2 separate regions of the Homo sapiens genome follow, and region 1 is linked to region 2. Evidence: fine-mapped expression QTL. A gene starts in region 2. The other region holds a variant in brackets. All regions are shown on one strand. Distances are from middle to middle.

Region 1 (11,573 bases), 190 kb after region 2:
TCAGCCTCCCCAGTAGCTGGGATTACAGGTGCCCACCACCACGCCCGGCTAATTTTTAGTAGAGACGGGGTTCCATCATGTTGGCCAGGCTGGTGGTCTTGAACTCCTGACTGCAGCTGAGCCACTTTACCCGGCCAGATGAATGCATTTTTTAAATATTAAACTTAGGTTAGAAGCACATAATAAAGCTGTACACATCTCCTACAGTTTTCACTAATGAAAATTGGGATGCCATTTAAATTACAAAGAAGTCTGAGGAGAATGTCCTACAGACTAGTTTCACATGCACATGCTGTCCTTACATGCTTTGTATACAGACATTAAACACATCAGTACAGTACACAAAGTAACAAGTTCCACGAACTCAGCACCACAGGAAAGGTTTACAAAAAATCCAAGAAGATGGCTATGCTGCCCATTAACAAACTCCCACCTCCTATCTTTGAGTTAGCCATTGCTTCTTAAAACAATGTATCTCTTTAAAAGCCCTATTTAAGAACATTGGCCAACTCCTCCACTCTTCCCTCTGCTAATCCTGCTCTGATTAAGTGCTTGACAAATCCAGTATTTATTGATTTGGAATTTCAAGTAAGTTTTTTGTTTTTAAGAGCACACAGGCATTTAAGCCCTTAAACCAGAAGTAGTGATAAATACTGCTGCTTTTTATTGAGGCTGAGTCTCCAACACCTAGGCTATAGTTGCAGTAGCGTGATCTCAGCTCACTGCAGCCTTGACCTCGGGCTCAAGTGATTCTTCCACATCAGCCTCCCAAGTAGCTAGGACTACAAGCCCATGGTACCACCATGGTGCCATGCCGGGCTAGTTTTCTGTTTTTTTTTTGTTTTGTAGAGATGGGGGTCTCTATGTTGCTCAGGCTGGTTTCAAACTCCCGGGCTCAAGCAGTCCACTCACCGTGGCTTCCCAAAAGGCTGGGAATACAGGGATGAGCCACCATGCCCAGCCAGTGGATGCTTCTGACATGTTATGTGCAAACAAAGCCAGACCTCTCGGGCCTCAGGTTTGCTTCCTGGGATGATCCTATTCTACTGAACTCACACTGATCCCTATAAAGCAAGCAGCAACATCACGCTTTTGGGAAAGGCCAATATGTTTTCCTGTCGATCATACCAATCCCAGGCGCCCTCCTAACAGGAGGGATCCAGACTATGGTGTCCATCACTGAGCATTCACCCAACAAAGCCACTTAAAAAAACAGCTCAGTAAACTAGATTCAGAAGTGATACTTGTTTGTAAGACCTATCCACATTACTCTGGCTTAAGAAGGCCTGAAAACCCAGAAAAACACCCAGCTATGGGTGAAAATACTTACAGGTGAATGTTTTAGTCTAGGATTAGCATTAAGATACTTCAGGAAAAAAATAATGGGGAGGATGAGACAAGAACAACAAACTCAAGACAGCTATGAGGAAATAACCATTACCCGTTAAGTTTTCCCTTTAATGACCATGAGGACAAAGTCATGACAATGCAGTCACCACCCACTTTTTGAAAAAAAAAAACAATGCCAATGTGGGAACCGACTGAGTCCCAAGCTTATCTACTGTAGGATCCAAGAGAGAGACAATCTCAGTGTTGGAGAATGCACTGAGAACATAGAGGAGAAGGCTACAAAGAACACTGAGTATACAAATGCATACAGATAGATGTGTATAGATATATATACACATAGATTTCCTGTCCGCTACAGAGGTCTAGAAACAATAACACCCCAGTAGCAGTAAGCCCTCAGAGCATTCAGATCTTGGTTTCTAAATGCTGTCTTCTAGTAGAGGGAACCAGGGCTCCTTAGGAAAATGGCTGAATCAGGCTAGGCGTGGTGGGTCACGCCTGTAATCTCAGCACTTTGGGGGGCTGAGGCGGGCGGATCATAAGGTGAGAAGTTCAAGACCAGCCTGGCCAATATGGTGAAACCCCATCTCTACTAAACATAAATACAAAAATTAGCCAGATGTGGTGTGCACACCTGTAGTCCCAGCTACTTGGGAGGCTGAGGCAGGAGAATCGCTTGAACCCACGAGGCGGAGGTTGCAGTGAGCTGAGATGGTGCCACTGCACTCCAGCCTGGGCGACAGAGTGAGACTCCATCTCAGAAAAAAAAAAAAAAAAGGCTGAATCAGGACTAGGGGAAGGAAAAGAACAAGATGAACCCCAAATATCTCAATGTGTCAAGTTAGTCTTCAAAAAATGATGGGGACAAATGACAGTTTTTGTGGACATAGAAAAGCCCATCCTAAAATTTATAAGGAATCCTAAGGGACCCTGAATAACCAAAAACAATCTTGAAAACTTAGCTGAAGGACTCATAGGTTAAGATTTCAAAATTTACTACAGTAATCAAATCAGTGTGGTACCAGCACAACAACAGACATATAGGAGGCTGGTTGCGGTGGTTCACGCCTGTAATCCCAGCACTTTGGAGGCTGAGGTGGGAGGATCACTTGAGCCCAGGAGTTCAAGACCAGCCTGAGCAACTTGGTAAAACCTTGTCTCTACAAAAAAAAAAAGAAAAAATCAGCCAGGCATGGTGACATGGTGACACACGCCTATAGTCCCAGCTACCTGGTAGGCTGTGAGCCAAGACTGCACCACTGCACTCCAGTCTGGGCAACAGAGTAAGACCCTGTCTCAAAAAAAAAAAAAGGCCAGGCGCGGTGGCTCACGCCTGTAATCCCAGCACTTTGGGAGACCGAGGCGGGTGGATCATGAGGTCAGGAGATCGAGACCATCCTGGCTAACAAGGTGAAACCCCGTCTCTACTAAAAATACAAAAAATTAGCCGGGCGCGGTGGCGGGCGCGGTGGCGGGCGCCTGTAGTCCCAGCTACTCGGGAGGCTGAGGCAGGAGAATGGCGTGAACCCGGGAAGCGGAGCTTGCAGTGAGCCGAGATTGCGCCACTGCAGTCCGCAGTCCGGCCTGGGCGACAGAGCGAGACTCCGTCTCAAAAAAAAAAAAAAAAAAAAAAAAAAAAATATATATATATATATATACACACACACACACACACACACACACACACACACACACACACACACACCCCCCCCCCCCCCAAAGGAAGAGAATCCAGAAGTCCTTCCATGTAATTTTTGACAAGGGTGCCAAGACCATTCAATGGGGGAGGGACAGTCTTTTCACAAATACTGTTGGGAAAACAGTGTGCACTTGCCAAGGAATGAAGCTGGACCCTTACCTAACACCATACACAAAATTAGCTTAAAATGGATGAAAGACCTAAATCTAAGACTAAAACTAAAACATGAGGCAAATCCGCAAATCTTCATGAGTTGGACTTAGCAATGTTTTCTTAAGTATGACACCAGAAACAGGCAACAAAAGAAAGTAATAGACAAACTAGACTTCATCAAAATTAAAACCTTTTTTGCATCAAAAGCTTTTCTGCAAAAAGCTTTTGCAGAATGAAAAAACAACTCACAGAATGGGAAGAAAAAAACTGCAAGTCACATCTGTTAAGGGATTAATATCCAGAATACACACAATACTCCTAAAATTCAACAACAAGCAACATGATTCAAAAAAAATGGGCAAGACTTGGACAGACATTTATCCAAAGAAGATAGACAAATGGCCAATAAATACGAAAAGATGTTCAACATCGTTAGGGAAATGCAAACCAAAACCCCCATGAGATACCACCTCATATCCACTAGGACAGCTACTATTTAACGAAACAATAAACATTGGCGACAATGTGGAGAAACTGGAACCATCATGCACTGTTGGAAAGTGATGGCTGCAGTGGGAAACTGGCAGTTCCTCAATATGTTAAAAATAATAGGTCAGACGCAGTGGCTCACGCCTGTAATCCCAACACTTTGGGAGGCCAAGGCGGGCAGATCACTTGAGGTCCGGAGTTCAAGACCAGCCTGGCCAACATGGTAAACCCCCGTCTCTACTAAAAATACAAAAATTAGCCAGGTGTAGTGGTGGGCCCCCGTAATCCCAGGTACTCGGGAGGCTGAGGCAGGAGAATCACTTGACCCTGGGAGGCAGAGGTTGCAGTGAACCGAGATCGTGCCACTGACTCCAGCCTGGGCAGCAAAGGGAGACTCCATCTCAAAAAAAAAAAAAATTATATGCAGCAATTCCACTTCTGGGTACATACCCCAAAGAGTTGAAAGCAGGGTCTCAAAGATTTTGTATACCAATATTCACATGTGGAAGCAACCCAAGTGCTTTTTTTTTTTTAGACTGAGTCTCACTCTATTGCCCAAGCTGGAGTACAGTGGCACAGTCTCAGCTCACTACAACCTCCACCTCCTGGGTTCAAGTGATTCTCCTGCCTCAGCCTCCCGAGTAGCTGGGACTACAGGTGCGCGCCACCATGCCCAGCTAATTTGCATATTTTTAGTAGCTATGGGGTTTCACTATGTTGACCAGGCTGGTCTTGAACTCCTGATCTCAGGGAATCCACCTGCCTCGGCCTCCCAAAGTGCTGGGATTACAGGTGTCAGTCACCGTGTCCAACCCCAAGTGCCTACTGACAATGTATTGATAAGCAAAATGTGGAATATATACACACAATGGAATATTACTCAGCCTTAACAAAGGAGGGAAATTGACATATTACAACACGGATAAACCTTAAGGACATTAGGCTATGTAAGATAAACCAGCCACAGAAGGGCAGATACTGTCCATTTATAGGAGGTTCCTAGAGTGAAAATCATAAACAAGTGGTGGTTTCCAGGGGCTGGAAGGAGCATGCGAGGGGAGTTAGTGTTTCATGGGAACAGTTTAAGTTTTACAAAATGAAAAGTTATGGAGTTGGATTGTGGTGGCTACACATTATGAATAAACTGTACACTTAAAAGTAGTTAGCAGTCTGGGCAACATAGCAAGACCTCGACTGTACAAAAAAAAATTAGCTGGGCATGGATGTGCACACCTGTAGTCTCAGCTATTCGGGAGGCTGAGGTAGGAGGAAAGCCCAGGAGAGCAAGGTTGCAGTGAGCCAGGATCACACTGCTGCACTCCAGCCTGGATGACAGATTGGGATGCTGTTTTAAAAAAAAAAAAAAAAAAGTGGTTAATAGGATGGTAAATTTTCTATGTGTCTTACCACAATTTTTTACAATTTTAAGATGGAAACATGCCAAAAGGACACAAGAGTCACCTTGACAGGTCTTCTGATGTCCAAATTTGAAGTAATTTGAACATCAAATAAATGGTTGCAATGGATTGCGACCCAGACTAGGAGTCCATTAGCTGACACACTGCATCAATGGGGAGGGAAGGCGCCTCCATGCAGGGGCAGGGTGTCGGCAGAAGGAACATTGGACATGGAAGCTCATGGATGGGCAGTGGTGGTGGATTCACATGGAAGTTGTAAGTGAAGGACAAGGATGGAGGGTAGAGGTCTGAAGAGGAACAGGCTGGTCATGTGCTTTGAGGATGCCTCCCCACAAAATACTCCTTGATTACCAAGAGACATAGTGTGACCTGACTGACAGTGGAGCAATCTGCCTGGGTCACCAAGGTTAACAAACTGTATGCCCCTGGAGTGACATACAGAGAAGAGCGCAGCATTTCTGTGGCTTTCCTGCCACAAAAGTGCTGCCTAGGTCTGGTCACCATCATCCAGACCCAGGCTGAGGGTGTACTACAGAGAGGTCTGCGGGCTTCACCCCACTAGGACGTGAAACACAGATGCCGAGAGGACTGATGCAGACAGCAGGAGAAAACTAAAGGCAACACACACCTCTTGACAGGGACCCTGGACCAGGAAAGGACAAGACACTGTTGGGACAGCTGGCGAGATCTGCATGGGGTCCATGGACTGGATGCAGTGTTCACTCCCTGACTTGGGGGAATATCTAAATTTTGAAGAGAGAGGGAGACCAGGGGAGACAATGTACACATAATTTCAGTAAAATGTACCTTTTATCTGTGAAATTATTTTAAAATAAAATTTTAAAAGTTAAAGGACTAGGTGCAGTGACTCACACCTGCAATCCCAGCACTTTGGGAGGATGAGATGACAGGATCACTTGAACCCAGTTGGACTGGCCTGGGCAATGTAGTGAGACCCTCTCTCTTAAAAAAAAAAAAA[A/T]ATCATTAGCCAGGAATGGTGTCATGTGCCTGTAGTCCCAGCTACTCAGGAAACTGAGGTGGGAGAATCACCTGAGCCCAGTCAAGGCTGCAGTGAGCTGTGATCATGCCACTACACTCCAGTGTGGGTGACAGAGCAGGACACTGTCTTTAAAAAAAAAAGTAGTAAAGAAAGGCTATATACTGCTGGGTGCAGTGGCTCACACCTGTAATCCCAACACTCTGGGAAGTCAAGGCAGGAGGATCGCTTGAGGCCACTGCAACCCAGCCTGGGTAACAGAGCAAGCTACTGTCTCAAAAAGGAAAAAAAAAGCTATATTGTAATGTCTTACTATGCAAAGCTACTCATGAAAAACTTAAGCCAGGCGCAGTGGCTCACACCTGTAATCCCAGCACTTTGGGAGGCCGAGGTGGCCAGATCACTTGAGGTCAGTTCGAGACCAGCCTGGCCAACATGGTGAAATCCCATCTCTACTAAAAATACAAAAATTGGCCAAGCGCACTGGCACGTGCCTATGATCCCAGCTACTCAGGAGGGAGGCTGAGACAAGAGAATTGCCTGAACCCGGGAAGAGGAGGTTGCAGTGATTCCAGATTGCACCACTGCACTCCAGCCTGGGTGACAGAGCCAGACTCCATCTCAAAAAAATAAAAATAAAAAGAAGAAAAACTTACTACTGTTTTTGAACTATAATTTTTTATTGTAATATTTTTAACACTTAATGCTTACTTGAGTGTATTACCAAAGTTACCCCAGGGCACCCCTTCTTCAATGAAGTACCCAGAATGAGTTTTTTTTTTTTTTTTGAGACGGAGTCTCGCTCTGTCGCCCAGGCTGGAGTGCAGTGGCGCGATCTCTGCTCACGGCAAGCTCCGCCTCCCGGGTTCACACCATTCTCCTGCCTCAGCCTCCCGAGTAGCTGGGACTACAGGCACCTGCCACCATGCCCGGCTAATTTTTTTGTATTTTTAGTAGAGGTGGGGTTTCACCGTGTTAGCCAGGATGGTCTCGATCTCCTGACCTCATGATCCACCTGCCTCGGCCCCCCAAAGTGCTGGGATTACAGGTGTGAGCCACTGCGCCCGGCCCAGAATGAATTTTTATAAATAGTCGAAGACACAAAAGATCACACTGGTCGGCTTCCAGTGTTGCCGCCAGCAAGTACGCTCCCTGCGAAAGTGCATCAAGTCAGGGCCCCAGGCTCAGCTTCTCTAAGAACCTTCAGTCTGGGGGAGGGTTGTGATGTGAGTCACAGGTCCATGAATTCTTTTTTTGTTGTTTTTAAAGACGTAAAGACACTTTTTCTCCTTTCACTGCTTTTCTCCTCAAAATGTTGCATTTCCTTCTGCCCTTAGTGTTTTCCATAACCTTCTGATCACTTTCAGTTATTCCGGCAGTACAATCATAGGCTGGCTTTACAGTGAAGCCTTTATAATCTTCTTCCACTTCTTCTAAAATTAAAAAATGAAAACCAACTAGCCCAACCCTCAACCAGGCTGGAACGCATGTCCTCCTCAGTGCTCAGTTATGGTGAGAGATGAGGATGCCCTGGGAAGTGTCCGGCAGTCTCCTCTCAGCTCCTTGGGGTCATTTCTTTGGGTAGCAATGTCAGGTCTGGACGGGGCACAAGTCCCTACATCCAGGTACCCAACATGCCTCTGAGGCAGCAACGCTTCCCAGAGGGGCTGGCCCTGGTCCCCCCACGACGAGCTTCCATCCCCTTACTCACATCTTCCCTTATTTTAGTTACTGCTCAACAGGACCAAACACTTCATTAGTAGCTGTTTATTGATCAATGGTTTGATATAAAGTTATTTCAGATCTTCAGACTTTTGCCCAGATGGAATCACAAGCATTACAAAGTTTTTTTCTTAAAAATAAAAAAAGGATAGGGGCAAGTTGGGAGGGGACCAACCTAGCAGTAGTGGCATTTGAGAATAAATTAACAAAAAAATTTAGTATTACCATTTATTGATGACAAACACTTAAGTTTTACTTACATTCCATGGGGAGAAAAATTCCAGCGTAAACAATGAATGGAAGCAGTACTTAACTCGCAGGGCTACCAGGCTTTCCATACGGACCACACGCAGAGCCTCAGTGCACACACTTCTGTGTACAGTAACACAACATCAAAAGCAACACAGCTGTATACAGAAACGTAGGTCATTCTTTTCAGCCCTAATGGAGATGTAATTAACAGTATCGAGCACTCTGGAAAATCACTCTGCAGGTTTATATGGACTACATGGAGATCATATCCTGTAGTGTAGTGAAAGCTAAGTCCTCAAGAGCCATATGTATAGATACACAATGTTTTTTAATAATCTTTAAAACAGAGATCAAAGTTCATTTAAGTCCTGTTTGCATTAACAAAAATAAAAATGAAATAAAAATGGAACCAAATGATCATCTAAAGTTTAAAATTCCTAAATTGTCCAATTTATACAACTGTGGGAGACTTATTCAAGGTTTTTGAAAGTCCAGGACTGTTTCAGCTGAACCAGAGGGCACACAATTTGCATCACTGAAACTGTCCTGGGTTAGTCAATGAAATAAAAATGTCTAACCACATACACATGGATATGATCTTTGTCGGTTAGATTATTGATAAAGTCAGTCTCAGACAAGTTTCCAAACTGTGCTATTTAACTAGATACAATTGAGAAATTCTCAAATGAAAATTTTATATAGTGTCATATCAATCAAAAGAAAATAATGAAACTAAGAATACAGATCACTGTTGGAAGAGAAAGCAGTGGTGATGGTGTGGGTACTGCAGGAGGTGGTGGGGCCGTGGCACACTAGAAAAGTTGGGTCACGCTGAGTAGGAAGCATTTGATTTTCTCTGGTGCTTTTAGCTCTGGGGCCGGTCAAAGGCCTCTCTCTGGCATGGCTGTCCAGGGTTTGTCCCAATGTGTCTGAGTGAGCCAGCTTGAGAAGGGGTCGTGCCGTTTCTTCTTTCACACAGGGGAAAAAAAAGACCAAACACGGAGGTGCCCAGGGTGTGGATCTGCTGGTGTCCCGGGAGAACCAGCTGGCTGGGCAGCCCTTCTTCCCCACAGGCAGCTGCTATTGCGTAGGGACCGCCAGGTCACCGAGTGGCCATCACAACAAACCCCAGCACAGTCCAGCCCGGCCACAGCCGCCTCCTTGTGTTTCTGTTGTCTTCCCTGCTGCTGCCCACATCCTTTACCCACCGTGTCTCTCGGCCCACTGGAGGTATCAGAAATTCCAAATTTTCAAAGCAGTTTCAGTATTTTCAGTATATATGTTGGGATTTTATAATGGTTCATGGCCAGAAAAGGTTCAGCACCTCCCACACCTTTAAGGAAGAAAAATGAAAATGACACTAGTTTTGAAATGTAAGAGAATTAAAGTACTGTTAAAAATGAAAAGAAATTGGCAAACATCAGGAAGTACAATACTAAAAGCCCCAGTTTATGATAACAAAAGTTTTCCCAGGGTATGCCAGTAAGTAAAATACGCAAGGAGAGTGTGTGTACTTATCTCTGTGGGGGGAAAGGAAGAAAATGAGGGAAGAAATATATGTCTATATTTGTATAAAGAAACATACAGGAAAGATACAGGAGAAACTAGTAAAAATGTGATCTATGGGGGAGGCGGTGGGGAGAATAGGAGGGATGGGATGGGGGCTGTCCGAGGGGAAGATTGTACCTTGTAAAATAATGCAGAGTTCTGACCATGTGAAGGTATGACCAACTCAAAAAGGTTTTTTTGTTTTTTTTTGGGACGGAGTCTTGCTCTGTCGCCCAGGCTGGAGTGCAGTGGCGCTATGTCGGCTCACTGCAACCTCCGCCTCCCAGGTTTTAAGCAGTTCTCTGCCTCGGCCTCCCAAGTAGCTGGGATTACAGGTGCCTGCCACCACACCTGGCTAATTTTTGTATTTTTAGTAGAGACAGGGTTTCACCATCTTGGCCAGGCTGGTCTTAAACACCTGACACCTCATGATCCACCTGCCTTGGCCACCCAAAGTGCTGGGATTACAGGTGTGAGCCGCTGTTCCCAGCCTCAAAATGTCTTTTAAAAGTAGAGCTTTCTGCCCAGAGAATCTGGAAAACTTTCAGGCAAAAGGGCCAGAAAGTAACTCAGGCAAATATTTCCCCGCTGAGTCAGCAGATAGTGTAAACTCAACACAAACGAGGGGCAGCCTCCCCATCATCAGCGCCTTCCCCTTCATCAGTGCACTCACACAGACATTGGTCCGTTTCCTGTTCTTGGCATCTCTGTACTTTGTTGGTCCAACTCAGACAGCAACTTTAAGATGTTCAGCGCAGCCTAGTGGGGATGGAAAGAAGGGTAAAGCCACAGCCACCGCTTGGGACCACAGCATAATACACTGGTCAGGCAGGCAAGAGAGTTCCTGCTGCCCAGCAAACAGGTGGCAACTTCTTCAACTCTGGTACTACTAAATAAAACTTTGAATTTTTAATTTAAAATACAAATTAAAAAATATTCAGTTACCTCACTGAATCATAACCTCTGAAAATGTTATATTTTTCCTTCTAGTATTTTTAACCATGTGGTAACCAGACTGTATAAATGTTATATCCTGCTTTCTAACAAAAATCTATCATGTATTTTTCTTTCTATAGAGACAGGGTCTCACTAAGTTGCCCAGGCTGGTCTCAAACTCCTAGGCTCAAGCGATCCTTCCACCTTGGCCTCCCAAAGTGCTGGAATTACAGGTGTGAGCCTCCACACCCGGCCTATCATGTATTTTTCTTCTTATTACATTATCTTCGGAGACACTGTTTTGTTTTGAAACGCAGTCTCACCCAGCTGCCCAGGCTGGAGTGCAGTAGTGCAATCTTGGCTCACTGCAACCTCCACCTCCCGGGTTCAAGCGATTCTCCTGCCTTGGCCTCCCAAGTAGCTGGGATTACAGGCACCCACCACCACACCTGGCTAATTTTTTTTTGTATTTTTAGTAGAGATGGGGTTTCACCACGTTGGCCAGGCTGGTCTTGAACTCCTGAGCTCAGGTGATCCGCCTGCCTCAGCCTCCCGCAGTGCTGGGATTAGTGTGAGCCACCACACCCCACCCAGAGACATTAATTTCATGCATGCATGACATCCCATCAAGTGAATACATCACAGTTTACTTAGATTTGTTGATCTGATCAATTCCTTTTCTCAGTTTTCTTATAACAATAATTTCATCTGAACAGAAGACCAAAGCAAGTGGTTTTTACAGCTGCCAGAACGTGGACCTGCAATTCCTTGTTCTGGTGAGAGATGAAGTGAGTGCAGTCTCTGGGTGAGCTGCAGGATCCCAGTTGCCCCTCCAGGCCAGCAGGGAAAAGGAAGGGAAAGGTGGGCTAAAGCTGATGAGTTCTGATCAAGAGTGAGAAATCGATCCAATCAGCTATGACAAAAAGTCTTCAAAAATATGAACACTATCAAACGATTCATTGCTCTCAAGGTCTATGGGACAATCTTTCTCCCATCTTCCTCAGGCTAG
Region 2 (11,573 bases):
ACCTGGGATGAGTAGGTTGCAGTGAGCCAAGATGGTGCCACTGCACTCCAGTCTGGGCGACAGAGCAAGACTCCATCTCAAAAAACAAACAAACAAAAATTGCTTCTGCTTCCTTCAGTCTCTTTCCCTTTTTCTCCCTCTCTCTCTCTCTTCCTCTCATTTTCTCTTGGGTCACTCACTCTGGGAAACAGGAGATACCACAGCATGAGCACATGCAAGCAGCTCTACCGAGAGGAGTGGAACTGAGGCCTCTGTCCCATGAGAGGGAGCCTCTTTGGAAGTTGATCCTCCAGCCCCAGTTGAGCCTCATCTGACTGCAGCCCCAGATGACAGCTCAACAGCAATCTCAACAGATCCTGATCCAGAAACACCCATGCTGCTCCCAAATTCCTGACCCACAGAAACTGTGAGATAAGAAATGTTTGCTTTTAAGCTGCTAAGTGTCAGGTCATTTATCATGCAGCAACAGATAACTAATATACAGATAAATAAACACCATCATTTAAAATTCAGTTCAGTGCAACTAACAAAAGATGATATGGAAGCAAGTAGTGGAGGTAGGAGGGATAAAACTGGGAGGTTGGTGACCTTGTGGGTGACATTGAGTTGAGGGCAGAGTGGTGGGAAGGGGGCAGCCATCAGTGCTTTCCAACCCTAGCAGATACTACACACCCCCTTTTATAACTGCAAGGCCTTTGTTAGCTGTTCTGAAATGAAATTCATAGGTAATAAAATCTTCCCACACACAGTTTTAATAAGACTACGAAGGTGAAACAAAAGGAATGCAATGTATAATTTGCAAATTTTATTTCAATAGATAAATGCTCAGATACAATTACACTAGAAGGTGTAATGAAGCAGGCGGATGCTGGAACCTAAAAGTGGGATCCCCTGGAATTGCCACAGCCATATGTGCAGGCTGATTGGAGTGCCCTAGCAGCAAATCAGATACCATAGCTGGTGTAAATGACAGCAATGTGGCTTTGAAGTGGTAAATGATATTTGGTAAAGTTCCAGACAAAATACATTTTTCTGGCCAGGTGTGCTGGCTTACTCCTGTAATCCCAGCACTTTGGAAGGTGGAGGTAGGAGGATCGCTTGAGACCAGGAGTTTGAGACCAACCTGGGCAACACAGGGAGACCCTATCTCCACAAAAATATTTAACAATTAGTCAGGTACGGTGGCACACACCTGTAGTCCCAGCTACTCTGGAGGCTGAATTTGGAGGATCATTTGAGCCCAAGAGGTGGAGGCTGCAGTGAGCCATGATCACACCACTGCACTCCAGCCTGGGCAACAGAGTGAGACTCTGCCTCAAAAAAAAAAATTGTAAAATTAGCCAGGCATGGTGGCACACATCTGTAATCCCAGCACTTTGGGAGGCAAAGGTGGGAGGATCGCTTCAGCCAGAAGTTCCAGACCAGCAGGGACAACATAGGGAGACCCCCATCTCTACAAAAATATTTTTTCAAATTAGCTGGGCATGGTGTTGCATGCTTCGATCACACCACTGCACTCCAGCCTGGGTGATGGAGTGAAACCTTGTCTCAAAATACATATGTATATATACATATACATATACATATACATATATATTTCCCTTGAATTGCAATGATATTTGCATTTCTGGAAAATGTGGTGATATTAAATCTACACAAGGGCCGGGCATGGTGGCTCACGCCTGTAATCCCAGCACTTTGGGAGGCCAAGGCGGGCAGATCACTTGAGGTCAGGAGTTGGAGACCAGCCTGGCCAACATAGTGAAACCTCGTCTCTACTAAAAATACAAATAAAATTAGCCAGGCGTGGTGGCGGGTGCCTGTAATCCCAGCTACTCAGGAGGCTGAGGCAGGAGAATCGCTTGAACCTGGGAGGCAGAGGTTGCAGTGAGTGGAGATCACACCACTGCACTTCAGCCTAGGCGACAGTGCGAGACTCCATCTCAAAACAAACAAACAAACAAACAAAAAAACTACAGCAAAAAACATTTTATATGTAAAGCAGATTTAGATTCTAGGCTCAGATCATTATCAATAAGTTTTTCATCTCCAGGAGTGTCTGGCCATGTGGCATACATTGAATTGTTTGTTACATAGGATTGTTCAGCTCTCTGCAGGATGTTATCTAGCATTCCTGTTCCCTCTATTACGACAACAGAAATATCCCCCCAACAAAATTTCAAAATGCGTCTGGGGGTGGTACTGCCTTCATGGAGAAGCACTGATTAAGAGGGACAGAAAAATGTAAGACAAGCCCTTGATGGGAACAAAAAGGAGCCCAGAGTGGCCAGAGTCCTGAAGAAAAGCAGGAAGGAGATGAGCTCAGAGAAAATGGCAGGGCCTCTATCACACCTTGTTGGCCACAGTATGATACTGAACTTGGACTCAATTCCAAGGGCAATAGGGAGCCTCTGTTGGATTTTCGGCAGGGGAGTGACATAGTCTGGCCTTGCTGTGTGTGTGTGTTGGGGGGAGTGGGGTGGGATCAAAACATGTTACTCAGCAGACTGCACTGTACTCTAGAGAATTTCATTCATTCATTCATTCATTCAACACATAAGGATTGAGGTGTGTCTCAGTGATCTATTGCTGTGTAACAAGCAAGACCCCAGAATGTAGTGGCATAAAGTAATGATTTTTTGTTTTCTGCTATTCTGTGGCTCAGCTGGGCAGTTTTTCTGCTGGTCTCACTAGTCACTTGTGCTGCTGTATTCAGCTGGTGGGTCGGCTGGGAGAGCTGCAATGACTGGGCTCCCTATCCACGTGCTCTTTCTTCTGGGGCTGCTACCATTTTGTTGTTATTATTGTTGTTGTTGTTTGAGACAGAGTCTTGCTCTGTCTCCCAGGCTGGAGGGCAGAGGGGCAGTCACGGCTCACTACAGCCTCCACCTCCTGGGCTCAAGCAATCTTCCCACCTCAGCCCTCCAAGTAGCTGGGACTACAGGCAGGCATCACTATTCCTGGATAATTTTTTAAATTTTTTGTAGCATCAGGGTCTTGATATGTTGCCCAGGCTGGTCTCGAACTCCTGGGCTCAAGTGATCCTCCTACTTCAGCCTCCCAGTGTTGGAATTACAGGCATGAGCCACTGACCTGCCCAGGGCTGCTTCTGAGTGTCATTCAGCATTCCCAGGCAGTAAAGGAAGAAGTGAGCCAGGGCTGTTGATGCTCTGGGACTTGTGCAGCCTCTTTTCTGTCACATTCTATTGGTCAAGACCAGCCACAAGGCTAGTCTAGGTTCAGGCTGGTGGAGAAACAAACTCTACCTCTTGCTGGGAGTGACTGCGAAATCGCATTACAAGCAGTGGAACTTGCAGAATTTAAGGCCATGAAATATTCAACGTGACTGTAGACCGGGCCCTGGGGATATGGCCTGCCCCTCTGCAACCGTGCTTTAGTGAGACAACAAATAGTCAACACGTACAAAAGCTCAGAAAGTGCTGTGGAAAACATCAGCTAGGGAGAGAGGGGGCTACTTGAGACAGGTCAGGGAAGGCTTCCCAGAGACGTCTGAGCTAAGACCCGAGCACTGGAGCATGCCTGCCTGGGATGTCTGTGCCTCTGAGGTTTCCAAGGAAGACAACTGTCTTTGCATAAGCCCATGGCTGCCCTTGGGGGAAGGGGCCCAGGGGACACCACTAATGGTTGCTGTGATAGCATCATTGTGGAATGGAGTGGAAGCTGCCTTGGGGCCAGAGTATCTGTCCCCCAGCACTCATTTGCAGGCTGTGTGACACTGGCCATCTGGGTTTCTTCCCCTGACTCCCAAAGCCCAGGTCCAGTTCACTGCACTGTGAGGGTTCACAGGTTTATAACAGGATAAACTACAGAGAGAGGTCAGTGCTTCCTGGTATACTATGCACAGCTGCGACACTCAATAAACAGAAGTTCACTGAACTGCAAGGTCACTGCTGCTGTGACAGGAGGGTCATATGGATGTGTGTATCTTGCCAGTGGCTGTGGTGAAACCCTGCTTGTGGAGAATAGACATAAACACACCTTCTCTCTCTCCCTCTCTGTCTTCCTTTCACCTCCCCTCTCCCTCCACCCCTTCCATTTCCTATTCTCCCAGCATGTTCTTTCCACTCTTCCTCACCTCCTTCCCCTTCACCTCCTTCCTACACCATTCCTTTTTCCATCTCTTTCCTGTTTTCCTAACTTGTTACTCTCATCTTTTTCTTTCTTTTCTGTTCTTCCTGACAGCTCCCCTTCCTACCTCCTCTCCCTTCACCCTTTCTCCTACTCTTTCCCCTCCTCTCATTTCTACCTCTCTTTCCTTTTCACTTCCCCTCTCCCTCCTGTCTTTCTCCTTTTTCTTTTACCTCTGTGCCTCCCTCTCACCTCTTCCCACACCACCTCATCTCCTCCATAACTAACTCACCTCCTTTTTGTTTGTTTGTTTTTTGAGACAGGGTCTCCTTCTGTGGCCCAGGCTGGAGTGCAGTGGTGCCATCACAGCTCACTGCGGCCTCAACCTCCGAGGCTCAAGCGATCCTCCCACCTCAGCCTCCCCAGTAGCTGGGACCACAAGCAGCGCCACCAGGCCCGGCTGTTTTACTTTTTATTTTGTAGAGAAAGGGTCTCCCTATGTTGCCCAGGCTGGTCTCGAACTCCTGGGCTCAAGCGATGCTCCCGCCTTGGCCTCCGGAAGCGCTGGGATTAGAGGCGTGAGCCGCCGCGCCGGGCCTCCCCCCTTCCCCTCCGCCGCCGCCTTCTCATCGCCCTTCCTCCTTCCTCCTGACGCCCCTTACTCCCGATCACTTCTCATTCATTCACCAGCTTCCAGTCCTCGCTCCCTCACCTCTTTTCTTTCCTACTCGCCTTCTCCTCCTGCCCCTTTATCATCTCTCCTTGTCACCGTTCTTTTTTGCCAATCCTCTCGTTCCCCTTCCTTTCCTCATCTCCTCTCTTACCCACGTCATCTCCATTCTCGTGCTCCCCTTCACCTCCCGTTACCTTGCGCTTCTCTCCTCTCATCTCCATCACCACCTCTCCCCGCTTTCGCCTTTCTTTAGCCCCCGCGTCCCCTATACCCTTCGCCCATGCCCACTCCCCTCCCCACCTTCTCTTCTTCCACCCTCCACCCTCGCCTTCTGTCTCTCGCCCACCTGACTCCGCTCCGCCCCCAGCCTTAGGCTCCGCCCCGCTGGGGGTCACGGGGCCGACGGACGCTAGGCGGCCGTAGCGGCCTCGCCAGTCACGTGGTCACGTGACGCGCTCCAACATGGCGGCGCCGTGGGGCCGAGGTGTCGCTTCCTGACGGGGCGGCGCGGACGGACGCGGCCGGTGCCGGCCGGGACGCCGGGCCCGCAGCCTAGCTCGCCATCTCGCTCACGCCGCCCGCCCGCGGGGCCGTCAGCCCCCGCCGGGCCGGGGCCATGCAGGAGAGCCAGACCAAGAGCATGTTCGTGTCCCGGGCCCTGGAGAAGATCCTAGCCGACAAGGAGGTGAAGCGGCCCCAGCACTCCCAGCTGCGCAGGGCCTGCCAGGTGGCGCTCGGTGGGTGAGCCGCTCCCGCCCTGCCCCGCGCTGGCCTCAGCACGTCGGCCGTTGCCCTATCCTACTCGGCCTTGGCCCGGCCTCCTGGCCTCCGCTTCCCCCCGATCCCGAATTCCACCCTTCCGGCCTCCTCCTCATTATACCCCCGGAGGAAGTGTTGCCCGGGCAGCTCGGGACTGGCCCAAGGTCACCTAGCAAGTTGGTGACAACCAGAGCTTGTTCCTCAGGGTTCCAGCTCAGGGCTTTTGCCACGATTCCTTGTCGCCCTGTTTCCTGGTTCCTCCCCTCACCACCTCCAAGTCCTAGAAACAGTAGCCCTTGCCCCAAGTTTTTTCGTTACCTGAGCTCTGCTGATTGGGGTTCCCCTAGGTGAACAGAGCATGTAGGAAGAGCCGTCCAACTGGTTTAGGGAAACCCCTGATTCTTGTTTTGGAAGTGCCCGTTGGAGAATGTTTTCCTTTGGTTTGGGGATCTCCCATAGCTCTTTCCCTCAAGGAAGGATTGTAGAAGGTGTTCTGGATCTCCCAGGCATTGTAGTGAGCAAGACATCTGCTTATTCCTAGCAGTCCACTAAAATACAAGGTCTTCAGCGCGAAGATACTTGTCTGACTTATTCATTGCTGTATCCCTTGCGCTTGCAACAGTGCCTGGCGCACAGTAGGTGCTCGATAAATATTTGCTGATTGAATGGACCCTCAGATTATGGAAAGAGGGAGAATTCTAACTAATAGTTAAAGGCTTGATAATTGATAGCAAAATCACTATCCTATCTTTCAGTTTTAATCATTTAACAAATATTTATCAAGTGCCCACTGCATACCAGGTACTGAGAATTCAGTGGGGAACAAGACGGACATGGTCCTTACCCCTATGGAGCTTATACTCGAATAGAGGAGACAAAATAATTAATTAAGAAAATAGGTGAGGTATTTTGGAATACTGATAAATACTATTTTGAAAATAAAACAGCAAGATGTGATAAAGAGGGCTTGAGGACTGCTTTCCATGGTCAGGAAAGTAATCTTTTCCAAGAGGAAAAGTAATCAGGTGGTCAGGAAAGTAATCTTTTCCAAGAGGGTGACACTTGAGCTGAATACTGAAAGGCAAGAACTATCCACCATATGGAGTTTCAGAAGAGAGTTCTTGGTGGGAGAATCCATGCATTTGACCAGAGCTGTTTTCAAGCTAATTCACTGCCCCAACGTCTTTGGTTTGGAATCTGTAAAGGCCTGTTTTTCCTAACAAAATGAGCAAATGGAAAGTTTGATTTTTAGTCACATAGTTTGAGATTGTTATCACCTTTCTCCTTTCATTTGCTACAAAGTATAGAGTAGTGTTCTTTTGGCATTTAGAAATAGGCTGGTGAACTTTGCACTTCCCTGGAAAGAAGGTCCCTGGCTTTCATCAGATTTTCAGAGGGCCCTGAGACTCCCTCAGGGGCCAACTATTGATGCAGAGGTGGTAGTCTAGATAATCTGGAAACAGTTGCTAGTCCGTGAAATTCAGGATCAGTGGAAGGAATTTACTGAGATGTAGATTTTTAAAGCTTTTCTCTTCCAATAACCAAGGCTGTTGGGTATTTTATCAGCAATGTGGGATAAGCACTGCAAAGCAGTTTGTTAGGCAAGAGCCTGGTATTTATAACTCCACGTTGAAATCTGCCTGGACTCTATCTTCTCGATATTGTTGTGGAGGTTTCAGAATAGTTATTTGGCAGAAGAGTTTTTATTTTTTCTTCAGAAAACTTCTTAACATAAAATTTTCACCAAAGTGTGCATCATATTATTGGAACCTACTTATAAAATTTTCATCTGGGTCATGAAGGGCCATTAACGCTGAGAATTTAATAGATATTTTCGGATCGTATCTTTGTTCAGAAGTTCAAGTTTTCCTAACACAAGTAGTGGAATGCATGTTTTCAGTTTTTAGTAGTGAATTGTAAAAAATGGCCTAGATAGGAAGTAATTTGACTACAGGTTATATGAATCACAAATTGGGGTTGTGCCAATGGCATAATAGGAACTGTCATAAGGGAACGTATGCATATTGTTAAGTGACCATCTTTTTTAAGAGAATAATTGTGTGTCATTGCTGTTAAATAGAAATGACTGCTTTTACTTAGAGTAGAACACATAGCAGAATGCCTGGTGATATTTCTCTCTGTCTCTCAAGGCCCAGTCTTGTGTCCAGTAGTCCCATTTAAGAAGAGAAATTTGGGGCCAGGTGCGGTGGCTCACGCCTGTAATCCCAGCACTTTAGGAGGCTGAGGCAGGCAGATCACGAGGTCAGGAGATCGAAACCATCCTGGCTAACACGGTGAAACCCCGCCTCTACTAAAAATAACAAAAAAAATTAGCTGGGCGCTGTGGCGGGCACCTGTAGTCCCACCTACTCGGGAGGCTGAGGCAGGAGAATGGCGTGAACCCAGGAGGTGGAGCTTGCAGTGAGCTGAGATTGCGCCACTGCACTCCAGCCTGGGCGACAAAACAAGACTCTGTCTCAAAAAAAAAAAAAAAAAAAAAGGCTGAAACGAGCCAGTGTATAAGGAGCAGCTATGTGGTATTTTAGAGATTACCATGTATAGATTGTTGTTAATTGTGATAAGAGGAACTGTAAATGACGGCTCAAAGTTGAAATGCTTGGATGATAGAGAGCATTTACAGGAAACAGCTTCTGTGATATGATTCCACCAGCTGTAGCATATTAGGGGAGAGGATCAGGGCTGCAGGGACTGTATAGTGTAGATGTTAGCTAGGAGTGTATTCTTTGGGACCCTAGACTTCTGTGTTCAAACCTCCTGCCTTCCACTTGCTACGTTTGTGATCTTGGACAAGTTACTTCCTTATAGGATTATTGTAAAGATTAAGTTAATTGACATGTGCAAAAAACTTGGCATGTAGTAGGTGCTCAGTAAATGCTTGCTATTACTTTTTTATTATTATTATTTTAAGCTGTGACAAACCACAGCAGCTGTAATTACTCTGGTTTGATGTTCTTAACCTTAGTTCCTCGTTCAGGAATGACTTACTGCTCTATTTGGTTTGTAGATGCAGTAAATAAGAATGTAATTACGTGATTGAAAGGCTGTGTTGGAGTATTAACTTCCTAAACTCAATGAAGACAGGGGTTGTCCTTTGTAAAAATTGTGATAATCATGATGGAGCAGATTTGGAGTAATCTCAATGATTCGTCCGCACTATACACCAAAAGCATAAATAGGGACTGCCCAAGTAGGGGATAGTGCCCTTCCAACCTTTATCTGGAGAAATCAAGACAGCCTGTGAGAGTATTCATCGCCCCAAGGATACTGTTGCTCTTTACCTTGTTATGAAACTTTGATATATATTAATAATCTTCAACCTTTCAGCCCTCTGTTGGAGAATATAATTACATTCTTAAACCTCCCTTTTATAATTGTCTTATTTAAGACTCATCTTCTCCCATCATGTATCTTTAAGTTATGTTTCTGCTCTTAAACTATATGAAGTTTGGAGGCTTAATAGGATAATCTATTTAAAATTCGATATGGAAAAATTTATCTATGGCTGGGCACTGTGGTTCATGCCTGTAATTCCAGCGCTTTAGGAGGCCAAGGTGGGCAGATTGCATGAGCCCAGGAGTTTGAGACCAGCCTGTGCAACATGGCAAAACCCCATCTCTAAAAAAATATATAAAAATTAGCTGGGTGTGGTAGTGCATGCCTGTAGTCCCGGCTACTTGGGAGGCTGAGGTGGGAGGATGACTTGAACCTAGGAAATGGAGGTTGCAGTGAGTTGAGATCATGCCATTGCACTCCAGCCGAGACAGCAGGGTGAGACCCTCACACAAAAGTGCTAAGTAATGGCTAGGTGCTCTATAATTACTAGTTGTCATTATTCTCAGCCATTATCAAGAAAATTTAAAAAGAATAGTAAACATACGTATTTTCATATGAAATTGAATGACTTTTAAAGATCACATGTTGTATTATATCTCCTATGTACTAAGCATTTCTGAGTTCCAGGCACAGTAAAGTGGGCTTTTCATGCAATTTAGTTCTCACTATTATCATCATTCCCACTGAGGCCCAGAGAAGTTAAGTTGGCCAGGGTAACTCAGTAAGTGATGGAACCAGGGTATAAACACAGGCAATCTGGCTCCATAGTCCAAGATCTTAACTATTACTACCATGTTTTCTTGCTTCTCCATATGAAAGTTGTTATGTTTGAAATACTCAGTAGAGTTTTTAAAACAATCAGTATACCGCAGTGGAGTTTCAGGAGACTGTATTTTCTATAGCTGAATTTTGAGATATGTTTGAAAGCCTTGAGTCAAAAAGATCACAGCTCTTTTCTTCAGGTTTTTACTACATATATACTAGGTTTACTTTAATTAGGGGCTAATGGAAAGAAGGAAATGAGAGTAAAGAGCTGGTTACACATAAGTTTCATTTGAGTTATTCAGTTTTTCTTTTTTTTTTTTGAGACAGGATCTTGCTCTGTGGCCCAGGCTGGAGTGCAGTGGTGGGGTGCGATCTCAGGTCACTGCAACCTCTCCATCCCTGGCTCAGGTGATCCTCCCATTTCAGCCTCCCAAGTAGCTAGGACTACAGGGGCGTACCACCCACCTGGCTAATTTTTCTGTTTTTAGTAGAGACGGGGTTTTTCTGTTGTCTGGGCTGGAGTTAATCAGTTTTTCTAATTGATGATATCTCTTCATCAGCAGTAAACTCCCTCTTATTAATTCTGGAGTTGTGACCTGTTATTAATTCTGGATTGTGATTCATTTCTTTGGGTACAGCAGGCAATGGGAGACCAAGGCTAAGGAAGAGAGCAACTTGCCCATCCACATCCACACAGCTGGGTGGGGAAACGTAGCTGCAGCACATGATGTAGCTTCACATAGATCATAACATCCATTCTTAGATTTGCTCCTCTGTTTAATATACGAGATTTAGGATGTGGATGGGTCATTGGTGACCTTAGCTTGAGCTTTTTTGATGCTGTGATGGAGGTGAAAGCCAGACTGGCATGGGTTGAGGCGTGGGAGGTGAGGAAACAGATGGTGAGCATAGTCAGCTCTCCCAAAGTTTGGTTGTGTTGTAAAGAGGAAGAAGGAGTGGCTCCTGGGAGTTGTTTGTTTATTTAAAGGTAGAAAAGATTTTAACTTTAAATATTGTTAAGGGATCCAGTTAAGGAAGTATATTCCTAAATCTTAGTTGTATATGAATGTGTGTAAGACATACAAATGGGCATTTATCATATGGACATCTGTGTGTCCATATGATACATAAATTGCTTTTTCTTCCATATGATCCTTTTATTCTAATTTTGATGTGTTCAGAAAAACCATTCTCATCATGAGGATTACTGTGAAACTTGAAAAATATAAAAAACATCTCTAAATTGATGTAACGTGGCGGGGCATGGTGGCTCACGCCTGTAATCTCAGTACTTTGGGAGGTCGAGGCGGGCGGCTCAGTTGAGGCCAGGGGTTCAAGACTAGCCTGGCCAAAATGGCGAAACCCCATCTGTACTAAAATACAAAAATTAGCTGGGCGTGGTGGCGCACACCCGTAATCCCAGCTACTTGGGAGGCTGAGGCAGGAGAATTGCTTGAACCCGGGAGGTGGAGGTTGCAGTGAGCCAAGATGGCGCCACTGCACTCCAGCCTTGGCAACAGAGCGAGACTCTGTCTCAAAAAAAAAAAAATTAAAAAATAAATAAATAAATTGACATAACAAGACTTTAAATTGAAATGCAGAATAAAGCCTTTAATTTTAGCAAATTCTAGTGTTTTGATGAGACATTTCGTTTATAAGTGCTATGTATCATAAAAATTTTGAGAAATAACAGGACTCAGGACCCTGGAAGATTACTTTTTGTTGAAAACCACTGTGGATTCTTCAGGAGGAGGTTATCTGTCTGGAAGCAGCATCAAAAAACTGGATTGTTCTTGATTATTGAAAAGCATTTATATGTAGGATTGGCAGAGAGTTGATTGAGACTTTGAAAGTTTGATTTGCTTATTGATAGTCCAGTGATCCCTCTTTGGGCCGCAGTTTCCCAAGGTGATAAAGATAGTAATACCTTTGT

Evidence for each region. PIP is the estimated chance that this variant, and not a neighbour inherited with it, causes the effect.
Region 1: its variant is fine-mapped to the expression of ARFGEF2 in blood mononuclear cells (TOPMed, PIP 0.98).

The regions. Positions count from the first base shown.
Region 1 is chr20:49,105,481-49,117,053 of GRCh38, forward strand. It overlaps STAU1 (staufen double-stranded RNA binding protein 1), which reads right to left. Exons shown (of 14, transcript NM_017453.4): 13 at 10,302-10,387; 14 at 7,859-9,413. The coding sequence ends at 9,398. Among named protein-coding and RNA genes, the nearest start is that of CSE1L, 65 kb to the left of the region's middle. The variant A/T (reference allele first, on the strand shown) is at 6,089.
Region 2 is chr20:48,916,512-48,928,084 of GRCh38, forward strand. It overlaps ARFGEF2 (ARF guanine nucleotide exchange factor 2), which reads left to right and starts at 5,200. Exons shown (of 39, transcript NM_006420.3): 1 at 5,200-5,499. The coding sequence starts at 5,379. RefSeq lists silencers at 4,961-5,040, 5,271-5,370, 5,411-5,460 and an enhancer at 5,831-5,910.